Linked DNA regions of Homo sapiens: region 2 is linked to region 1. The links come from fine-mapping of genetic effects on gene expression. A gene starts in region 1. The other region holds a variant in brackets. All regions are shown on one strand. Distances are from middle to middle.

Region 1 (5,375 bases):
TTTATTTTATTTTATTTATTTATTTATTTTTGAGACAAAGTTTCACTCTGTCGCCCAGGCTGGAGTGCAGTGGTGCAGTCTTGGCTCACTGCAACCTTCGCCTCCCTGGTTCAAACAATTCTCGTGCCTCAGCCTTCTGAGTAACTGGGATTACAGGCGACTGCCACCATGCCTGGCTAATTTTTGTCTTTTTAGTAGAGATGGGGTTTCGCCATGTTGGCCAGACTGGTCTCGAACTCCTGACCTCAGGTGATCCGCCTGCCTCGGCCTCCCAAAGTGCTGGGATTACAGGCTTGAGCCACTGCGCCCGGCCTTTACTTTAATCATTACGCACAAGGATTTCCATCTGCCTTTTTTTTTTTTTATTATTGGAGACAGAGTCTCACTCTGTTGCCAGGCTGGAGTGCAGTGGCGCAATCTCGGCTCACTGCAATCTCCGCCTCCCAGGTTCAAATGATTCCCCTGCCTCAGCCTCCCAAGTAGCTGGGACTACAGGCGCGCGCCACCATGCCTGGCTAATTTTTTGTATTTTAGTAGAGACAGGATTTCACCATTTTGGCCAGGATGGTCTCTATCTCCTGACCTCGTGATCTGCCTGCCTTGGCCTCCCAAAGTGCTGGGATTACAGGCGTGAGCCACCGTGTCCGGCCTCCTGTCTGCCTTTTATCTTACCCTATCACTAGTGGCTGCCTGAAGATCTCAGAACAGCATCTATAGGAGATGCGCATCCGATCCTAGGAAGGATTTCTGATGCTATTTTATCTTTAGGGACTTGTTACTGGGCTTCTGTCTGCCAAGACAACAGAAACGTGGCCTAGCAAACAATTCCTTTTGGTTGGAAGGCAGTCTCGCTAGGGGCATTTGAGGGCCTTGCCTAGGACATAGGACCAGCAGTATTTCACAGCTACTACAGAAAATACCCCAGACTTTGGCCCATAAGATCTCTTGTATTATACTGCAGATCTACCAATGGCACTCAGACCCAGAGGCAGATGCAATCTCCGGTTCGCGGGTTGGGAGCAGTTTTGTGGAACAAAGACACCGTCTAGTTCTGACATGGTACAGGGAGGAAACACACAGAGGTTAAGACTTAGACAAGAGGCCAGGCGCGGTGGCTCACGCCTGTAATCCCTGCACTTTGGGAGGCTGAGGCGGGAGGATCACTTGAGGTCGGGACTTCGAGACCAGCCTGACCAACATGAAGGAACCCCGTCTCTACTAAAAATACAAAATTAGGCCGGGCGCGGTGGCTCACGCCTGTAATCCCAGCACTTTGGGAGGCCGAGGCGGGTGGATCACGAGGTCAGGAGATCGAGACCATCCTGGCTAACACGGTGAAACACCGTCTCCACTAAAAAAAATACAAAAAATTATCCGGGCGTGGTGGTGGGCGCCTGTAGTCCCAGCTACTCCGGAGGCTTAGGCAGGAGAATGGCGTGAGCCCGGGAGGCGGAGCTTGCAGCGAGCCGAGATCGAGCCACTGCACTCCAGCCTGGGCGACAGAGCGAGACTACGTCTAAAAAACAAAACAAAACAAAATTAGCCTGGCGTGGTGGCGCCCGCCTGTAATCCAGTTACTCGGGAAGTTGAGGCAGGAGAATCGCTTGAACCCGGGAGGCGGAGGTTGCGGTGAGCCGAGATCGCGCCATTGCATTGCACTCCAGCCTGGGCGACAAGAGCGAAACTTCGTCTCAAAAAACAAAACAAAACAAAACAAAACAAAACAAACTTAAGCAAGGCCAGGTGCCTGGGTCGAGGCAGAGCTGAGGCTTATCCGGGCATCCTCTCACTTAGCAGTCTTTCTTCCACAACACACTGATCCCCGTGTTTGGCGTATTGTGGAGAGTTGCAGGGCATTCCTTTCCCTGGACATAAATTTCCACGTCTACCGGTGACATCAAGTCACAAGAGGCCAGAACGCGGTTTTCAAGTCAGAATCTTAGCCAGAAACGAAGTTGGCCTCTTGCCAAGGAGCCAAATAACTGGATGGACGCTCGCACCCGCTTCGCAGACAGGCGCACGCAGTGGAGAGGTGAAGTGATTTCTGCGTTTGGGTAGAGCGGCGTCGGCTTTAGGTGTCCACGGTGCGGAAGCCAGCCGTTTTCCAAAATGCAATACCTCTAATGGTCCCTCACGAACAGCAGTCCCCAAATACAGCCGCTCTTGGACCTCGACGAAGGGGATGCCACTAACGCTGTGGGGAGAGCGCACGGTCCCCGCCGGCGCAGGGAGCCGGGGGTAGAGCAGAGGGCGTCGCGTCCCCATCCCAGCCCCAGCGCGGGGGCTGGAGCAGTCGAGAGGGCGGCCTCCCGCCGCCTAGAGGCGCCGGTCCGCTCGTCCGCTCTGCCTGTGCCCCGTCTCTATGGCGGCCCCAACGGCCGTCCAGGACGTGGAGCGAAATGAGCTCGGGCGCTGACGGCGGCGGTGGCGCTGCGGTGGCGGCGCGGTCGGACAAGGGCAGTCCCGGGGAGGACGGTTTCGTCCCGTCGGCGCTGGGGACCCGCGAGCAGTGAGTGTGACGCTGGGCAGGGGAGGATGAGCCGTGCCGCCCTGCCTGGGCCCCGAGAAGGGGACGGCGGGGTGGAGACCCGGGGCTCAGGGACAGGGAGACCCTCGGGGGCGTGACGGGAGCAGGGCCACCTGGCGGGGGGCTTACGGGGATTTCAAAGAGTGGAATCCCTAGGGGTCGCCCTACGCGGTTAACCGACGTTTCAAGGGATTGGAGCCCAAGGGGCTTGTGGGTGCGGGACAGGCTTTGGCTCCTGGGAGGCCTTTTGGGAGTCTCGAACCTGAGGGCCAGGCTTGGGGGAAAGGGGGAGAGGGCGAGGCTGGCGAATAGGGCTGGTCGGCGAGAGTGAGAGACCGAGGGAGAAGTGCTGGGCCTGGGAGCCGAAAAGGCTGAGTAGGAGGGGAGGGATGTGGGAGCTGGAAGTGGGGTGGGAATAGCGGATGACCCGAGGCGGGAGCGGGGAGATAGTGGGGGATCTTGGGGTGAAAGAAAGCGATCTGACCTCAAACAGACGCTCAGGAATTATTAAATGAATTAATGTGGGTGGATGAATGGCTGCAGGGAACAGTTGGGGAGAGGTAAATTGGCGGGATGAGAGGGAGCAGGGATTCTAGAGAATCATTGTAGGAAAAGAGACGGCAAATGAAAAGGATTCAGAGGGCCGGGTGCGTGGTGGCTTACGCCTGTAATCCCAGCACTTTGGGAGGCCGAGGCGGGCGGAGCACAAGGTCAGGAGATCGAGACCAGCCTGACCAACATGGTGAAACCCCGTCTCTACTAAAAATACAAAAATTAGCGGGGTGTGGTGGCGCACACCTGTAGTCCCAGCTACTCGGGAGGCTGAGGCAGGAGAATCGCTTGAACCCGGGAGGCGGAGGTTGCAGTGAGCCGAGATCGCGCCACTGCACTCCAGCCTGGTGACAGAGCGTGACTCCGTCTCAAAAAAAGAAGAAAAGCGTCCAGAGAAAATTTAAACGGAGGGCTAGAAGACTGGAATAGGCAGAGACAAATAGCACAGGAAAGAGACTGTGTGCCTGCACACTTGAGACCAGATGTGCTTGTTTCATCAAGTTTTGAACTTGGGTCAGGGACTTAGGGATACGTGGACAAATGTCTTTGTGTTTTTTTAGGCTAAAACTTATTGTTGTGCATCAGATATTGTCCTAAATGCTTTACATGTACAGTATAAACGTATTCTGCTTGCCCATGTATTTCCTTCTTTTAACTCAAGGACGTTAAAAGATTGAACTATGTGTATTTATTAATAACACTAGTGATGTTTAAACCTCTGTCATAAATAGCTCTGTAATGTATTAGAAACATACATTTAATTCATAATACAGTTTAATTCAAGAGTCTTGCTTTGCATTTCATTGTTTACATAGTTGGGATGCTGTCTATGAGAGAGAACTGCAAACTTTCCGAGAATATGGAGATACAGGTGAAATCTGGTGAGTTAGGAAAAGAATCAAGTTATAATCTAGAAGATTATATGTATATGTGTGTGTGTTTAAAAAAATACGTATATATTCGCCGGGCGCGGTGGCTTACGCCTGTAATCCCAGCACTTTGGGAGGCCGAGGCAGGCAGATCACGAGGTCAGGAGATAGAGACCATCCTGGCCGACATGGTGAAACCCTGTCTCTACGAAAATTAGACAAAAAATTAGCCAGGCATGGTGGCGCGCGCCTGTAGTCCCAGCTACTTGGGAGGCCGAGGCAGGGGAATCATTTGAACCTGGGAGGCGGAGATTGCAGTGAGCTGAGATCGCGCCACTGCACTCCATCCTGGGCGACAGAGTGAGACTCCATCTCAAAAAAAAAAATGCATATATTCAAGTGCTTATACCCAAAGAAAGCCTAAAAATCCTGGGAACCCTGGATTAAGTCTGGCTTTAGTGGGTAGATTTAAAGTATGTCTCTTCTTTTATTCTTTTTTAATTTTTTACTTTTTTTTTTTTTTTAGAGAGGTGGGGTGTCATTCTGTCATCCAGGCTGGAGTACAGTGGCATGATCATCATAACTCGTTACATCCTGGACCTCCTGGGCCCAGGTGATCCTCCCGCCACAGCCTCCTGGGTAGCTGGGACTATAGCTGCATGCCATCATGCCCAGCAAATTTTCTTTTTTGTAGAGACAGGGTCTCACTGTGTTACCCAGGGTGGTCTCGAACTCCTGGCCTCAAGCAGTCCTCCCACCGTGGCCTTCCAAAGTGTTGGGAGAATGGGTGTGAGCCCTCTTTTAATATCTCACATTTACGTTTGATGACAGCATTTCACCCTATAGTTGTCCTTTGTCAATAAACAATAAAATTCTGAGACACCAACACATACAACTGTTAATGCTGATATAGAGAAATGTTAGTAAATAACATACTGACCTTGTCTATTCTGTTGTATTCCTGGAGGTGGTTTCTCCTAAATTACAGTAGAGACAAAGCTGAAGCAGTCACAGATGTTTTCACTTTCAAATAAGAGTTTGAGCATATGGTATAAATAGCTTAAATGGAATATAGTGGTGACTTTTGCTCTGTATCCCTCAGTTATTTGACTGATTCTCTCTAACAGGTTTGGAGAAGAGAGTATGAATCGACTAATAAGGTGGATGCAGAAACACAAGATTCCACTGGATGCTTCAGTGCTTGATATTGGAACTGGAAATGGTGTTTTCCTGGTTGAACTTGTTGGTACTTTTAGTATTTGTTTGTTAAAGACAAATTTTAAAAGGAAAATTTTTAAAGGCCCTGCAATTGAGGATATTAACCATCTAAATATAAAATAGTAAAGCAGTCATACTTGGAGAAGTCAGATAGTACAAAAGGGAGGCTACATGGATTGTGAGAGAACCTAGGCAATCTGAGTCCTAGT
Region 2 (5,375 bases), 59 kb before region 1:
GTGGTGGCAGGCGCCTGTAATTCCAGCTACTTTGGAGGCTGAGGCAGGAGAATCGCTTGAACCCGGGAGGCGGAGGTTGCAGTGAGCCGAGATCGCACCACTGCACTCCAGCCTGGGGAACAAGAGCGAGACTTCATCTCAAAACACACACAGGCACACACACACATGGACAGCTAGTTCATGGATTAGAAGACTCAATATCGTAAAGATGTCAATTCTTCCCAACTAGTCTATAGATCCAATGCAATATTTTAAAAATCTCAGCAAGATTATTTGGGGGCATGCAGAAGTTGACAAGCTAATTCTGACACATATATAGAAATGCAAACAGCCAAGAGTGACCAAGAGCAAAGCTCCAGGATTCATACTACCAGACATTAACAGTTATTGCTAGCCTACATTAAGATAAATAGGCCTCGGCTAGGTGCAGTGGCTCACACCTGTAATCCCAGCACTTTGGGAGGCTGAGGCAGGCAGATCACCTGAGGTCAGCAGTTTGAGACCAGCCTGCCAACATGGTGAAACCCCGTCTCTACTAAAATACAAACATTAGCTGGGCGTGGTGGCAGGCGCCTGTAATCCCAGCTACTCAAGAGGCTGAGGCATGAGAATAGCTTGAACCCAGGAGGTGGGGGTTGCAGTGAACCGAGATTGGGCCACTGCACTCCAGCCTGGGGGACAGAGGAAGACTCTGTCTCAAAAAAAAAAAAAAAAAAAAAAACAAAGCTCAGAAACAGATCTGTGTTTGATTTGATTTATGACAAATGTAATAATTCAGGGCAGTGGGAAGCGGTAATTTTTAGCAACTGGTGCTGAATCATCCAGACATTCTTTTGTTTTGAGAGAGGGTCTCACTCTGTCACCTAGGCTGGAGTGCAGTGGCTATTCATAGGCACAATCAGAGCACACTGCAGCCTCGTCCTCCTGGGCTCAAGCATTCCTCCCACCTCCACCTCCCAAGTAGCTGGGACTACAGGTGCATGCCACCGTGCCTGCCTAATTTTTTTTGTATTTGTAGGGATGGGGTTTCCCCATGTTGCCCAGACTGTCTGAATATTCATAGGGAAAAAGTAAACGTTGGCCTTTAGATTACAAAACATAAAAAAAATTTGACCATTCCTTCATACCATATACAAAAATAAAAATGTGAAAAGTTAAAACAATAAATCTTCTTGAAAAAAACAAACAAAACAAACTCAAAGTTTCATGGCCTTGGATAGGTAAAGATTTATTAAACAAGATACAAAAACAGCCATAAAGGAAAACAATTGGTAAATTATATTAGATTGTAATGGTGAATTTCTGTTAAGCAAAAATCATCTTTAAGAGAGTAAAATGGCCTGGAGAGGTGGCTCACACATGTAATTTCAACCTTCAGGAGGCTGAGGTAGAAAGATTGCTTGAGTCCAGGAATTCGAGAACAGCCTGGGCAACATAGCACAACCTTGCCTCTACTGAAAATTTAAAAAAATTAGCCGGGAGTGGTGGTGTGAGCCTGCAGTCCCAGCTGCACGAGAGAATCACTTGAGCCTGGGAGGTGGAGGCTGCAGTAAGCTATGATTGCACCACTGCACTCCAGCCTGGGTGACAGAGCAAGACCCTCTGTTTCAAAAAAAAAAGAGTAAAAAGACAAGCTACTAAATGGGAGAAAGAAGATAGTTGGTATGTATACATATGTATGTATACCAACACACACATATATATATACACATTCACATGCATATATATCTTAAACCTCGTATCTGGAATATATATGAAGTCTGCAAATCAATAAGAAAAAGGCAGACAACATGACAAAAAAACAGGTGCAGGACCAAATAAGCTCATCAGTCTCTGGGGCAATGCAACTGCAAATCACAGTGATCTGCAGGCTAAGCAGAATGGCTAAAATGTTTTAAACTGGCAATACCAAATGTGGTTGAAGATGGGGTTGCTGGAATGCCCATACTTTGCTGTGGGAGTGTGACTTGGTGGGACAACTTTGGGAAACTGTTGGCTTCTACTAAAGCTGAACAT[T/C]TGCAGCCTTTCTGACCAGCAATTCACTCTTAGCTATCTATATACCCCAAATATATGCAGACATCTGACATACATTTACCAAAACACATGATGAGAATGTTCACACCTGCATTATTTGCACCCACCTTTCAAAAGTCTCAAATGTCCATCAACAGTTGACCATTGGGTACTCAACAACCTGAATGAATCATACAAGCATCATGTTGGGTGAAAGAAGTAGGAAAGTCTATAACCAAACAAAATCATTTTTTTTTTTTTTTGAGATAGAGTTTCGCTCTTGTTGCCCAGGCTGGAGTGCAATGGCACAATCTCAGCTAACCACAACCTCCGCCTCCTGGGTTCAAGCGATTCTTCTGCCTCAGCCTCATGAGTAGCTGGGATTACAGGCATGTGCCACAACGCCCAGCTAATTTTGCATTTTTAGTAGAGACATGGTTTCTCCATGTTGGTCAAGCTGGTCTCCAACTCCCGACCTCAGGTGATCTGCCTACCTTGGCCTCCCAAAGTGCTGGGATTACAGGCATGAGCCACCGTGCCCGGCCCAGACAAAATCAATTTATGTTGATAGAGGTTAACAGAGTGAGGGTAACAACCAAGAGGGGACATGAAGGGAAATTGTGAGGCACAGGCATGTTGTTTTATTTTGTTTTGGTTTGAGACAGAGCCTCATTCTGTTGCCCAGGCTGGAGTGCAGTGGTGCCATCTCGGCTCACTGCAACCTCTGCACCCCGGGTTCAAGCAATTCTCCTACCTCAACCTCCAGAGTAGCTAGGATTACAGGCGCTTTCCACCCCGCCCGGCTGCTCTGTCGCCAGGCTGGAGTGCAGTGGTGTGATCTGGCCTCACTCCAACCTCCGCCTCCCAGGTTCAAGCAATTCCCCTGCCTCAGCCTCCCAAGTAGCTGGGACTACAGGCATGCACCACCACGCCCGGCTAATATTTTTTTTTTTTTTGTATTTTAGTAGAGATGGGGTTTCACCATGTTGGTCAGGATGGTCTTGATCTCCTGACCTCAGGTGATCTGCCTGCCTCAGCCTCCCAAAGTGCTGTGATCTCGACTCACTGCAACCTCCATCTCCGGGTTCCAGCAATTCTCATGCCTCAGCCTCCCAAGCAGCTGGGATTACAGGCACGCACCACCACACCCAAATACAAAAATACTAATTTTTGTATTTTTAGTAGAGACGGGGTTTCGCCATGTTGGTCAGGCTGGTCTCCAACTCCTGACCTCAGGTGATCCACCTGCCTCAGCCTCCCAAAGTGTTGGGCCTACAGGAATGAGCCACCAAGCCCGGCCAATGTTTTGTTTCTTAATGTTCGTGCCAGTCACATAGGTATGTTCACTTTGTGAAAATCTGACAAGCTATACATTTATGATTTGTGTCCTTTTTTGTATATATGTTACACCTTGATAAAAATTTACTCGAACAAAAGAGAAGGGGAGTGAAGGGGTGGGGAGAGAGGGAGGGTTGGAGAACAGAGAGAAAGAGTGAAGGAGGGAGAGAAGATGCTAACAAAACGGGGCTGCACATGAGTCCCACCTGCTCTCCAGGTGCCTGGAGCACCCTCTCCCAGCGTCTGCTCAGGCACAGTGCACTCAGGCCGGGTCGGCAGCAGATGGCTAGAGCAAGGTGCCAGGGCTCTCTCTCGCCATCCTCTTTCTCCTGAGGGCTTGGATGTCACTCAGCCTCGCCCATAACTCTGTGCCCACTCTCCCTGGGTGGGTGGAGATTTGAATGCCAGCCTCCGGATGAAGAAGGGGATTAATTTGATCCTCCACCTGGGTACCTCTGAGCAGGCAGGCCGAGGACTGAGCAAGTGGAAGGTGTGGATGAGCTGCAGAAATGAGGTTGGCTTCTGCTTGATGCAGCCTTCCCTGTCACGTCCTGAGCAGGGGGAGGAGTGTGCTTGTCAGGACAAGGGTCACCGAGATTGCAGCTGCCCCAGGCGAGCTCCCCTTATGCTTCCCGCTCTGGCCTGTCTGCATCCAAGGTGCCAGGACACTGTGAAGAGCGTCCCAGGCTGGGCTGAGGACAGCCACGCTTCCTGAGCAGGATGCCAAGCCCCGTGGGGCCCAGAGCAAATGCTCCAGCCTGTCCTTTGTTTATTTCAATCTGGGACAAATGTTGCCGGAGAGGATCTCTACTATCCTTTCCTGTGCTGACATTCTCCAAGCCCGTCATGGTCTGGAGCAGACACAGCTGTAAGAGGAGGCAGGAGGCCTGGGCTCTGGGTCTTTCAGTGGCTTTGTGACCTTGGGCCCATCATCATGCTACTCTTGCCTCGGTTGTTCCCTCTTTGTGAAATGAGGGGTCAGCATCCTATGTCATCCAATTTGGTAACCATTAGCCATATGGCATGCAGCTTCTTAAATCTAGATTTAAATGAATTAAAATTGAATGAAATTTAAAACTTGGGCCAGGTGCAGTGACTCACACCTGTAATGCCAGAACTTTGAGAGGTGGCGGTGGATCGGAAGGGGGGGTGGATCGCTTGAGGCCAGGAGTTCAAGGGCAACCTGGGCAACAAATTGAGACCTCGTTTTTTTCTTTGTTTGTTTGTTTGTTTTCGAGACGGAGTCTTGCTCTGTCACCCAGGTTGGAGTGCAATGGCTCGATCTCGGCTCACCACAACCTCTGCCTCCCAGGTTCAAGCCATCCTCCTCCCGAGTAGTTGGGATTGCAGGCGCACGCCACCACACCCTGCTAATTTTTCTATTTTTAGTAGAGACGGGGTTTCACCATGTTGGTCAGGCTGGTCTCGAACTCCTGATCTCGTGATCCGCCCGCCTCGGCCTCCCAAAGTGCTGGGATAACAGGCGTGAGCCACTGCGCCTGGCCCCAAGACCCCCGTTTTTACAAAACAGGGTCTCTCCCCCAGGCTGAAGTGCAGTGGCACCATCTCAGCTCACTGCAACCTCCACCTCCTGGGTTCAAGCAACTCTCCCTGACTCAGCCTCCCGAGTAGCTGGGATTACAGGTGCCCACCAGCATGCCCGGCTAACTTTTGTAGTTTTAGTAGAGACAAGGTTTCACCATGTTGGCCAGGCTGGTCTCGAACTCCTGACTTCAGGTGATCCACCCACCTCGGCCTCCCAAAGTGCTGGGATTACAGGCGTGAGCCACCACACCCGGCCAAAATTTTTCTTTTTTAAATTAGCCAGTCATGGTGGCACATGTCTGTAGTTCCAGCTGCATAGGAGGCTAAGGTAGGAGGATCATTTGAACCCACGAGGTCGAGGCTGCAGGGAGCCATGATTGCACTACTATACTCCAACCTGAGTGACAGCAAGATGCTGCCTCAAAAAAACCTCAATTCTTTCGCCTTGCTAGCTGCGTTTCAAGTGCTCAGTAGCAACG

Which allele goes with the higher level. Positions count from the first base shown, and alleles are read on the strand shown. Sizes are in standard deviations (SD) of each study's normalised expression.
For the expression in prefrontal cortex of the gene that starts at base 2,346 in region 1, T is the high allele of the variant in region 2 and C is the other (small effect, 0.39 SD a copy in GTEx).

Evidence for each region. PIP is the estimated chance that this variant, and not a neighbour inherited with it, causes the effect. A credible set is the group of variants that fine-mapping cannot tell apart.
Region 2: its variant is the best candidate, but not a certain one, in a credible set for the expression of EEF1AKMT2 in prefrontal cortex (GTEx, PIP 0.67).

The regions. Positions count from the first base shown.
Region 1 is chr10:124,788,858-124,794,232 of GRCh38, reverse strand. EEF1AKMT2 (EEF1A lysine methyltransferase 2) reads left to right here and starts at 2,346. Exons shown (of 7, transcript NM_212554.4): 1 at 2,346-2,509; 2 at 3,895-3,960; 3 at 5,076-5,190. The coding sequence starts at 2,400. RefSeq lists enhancers at 947-1,669, 1,733-2,042, 1,670-2,394 and a silencer at 2,173-2,232.
Region 2 is chr10:124,847,912-124,853,286 of GRCh38, reverse strand. No RefSeq gene overlaps it. Among named protein-coding and RNA genes, the nearest start is that of ABRAXAS2, 49 kb to the right of the region's middle. The variant T/C (reference allele first, on the strand shown) is at 2,017.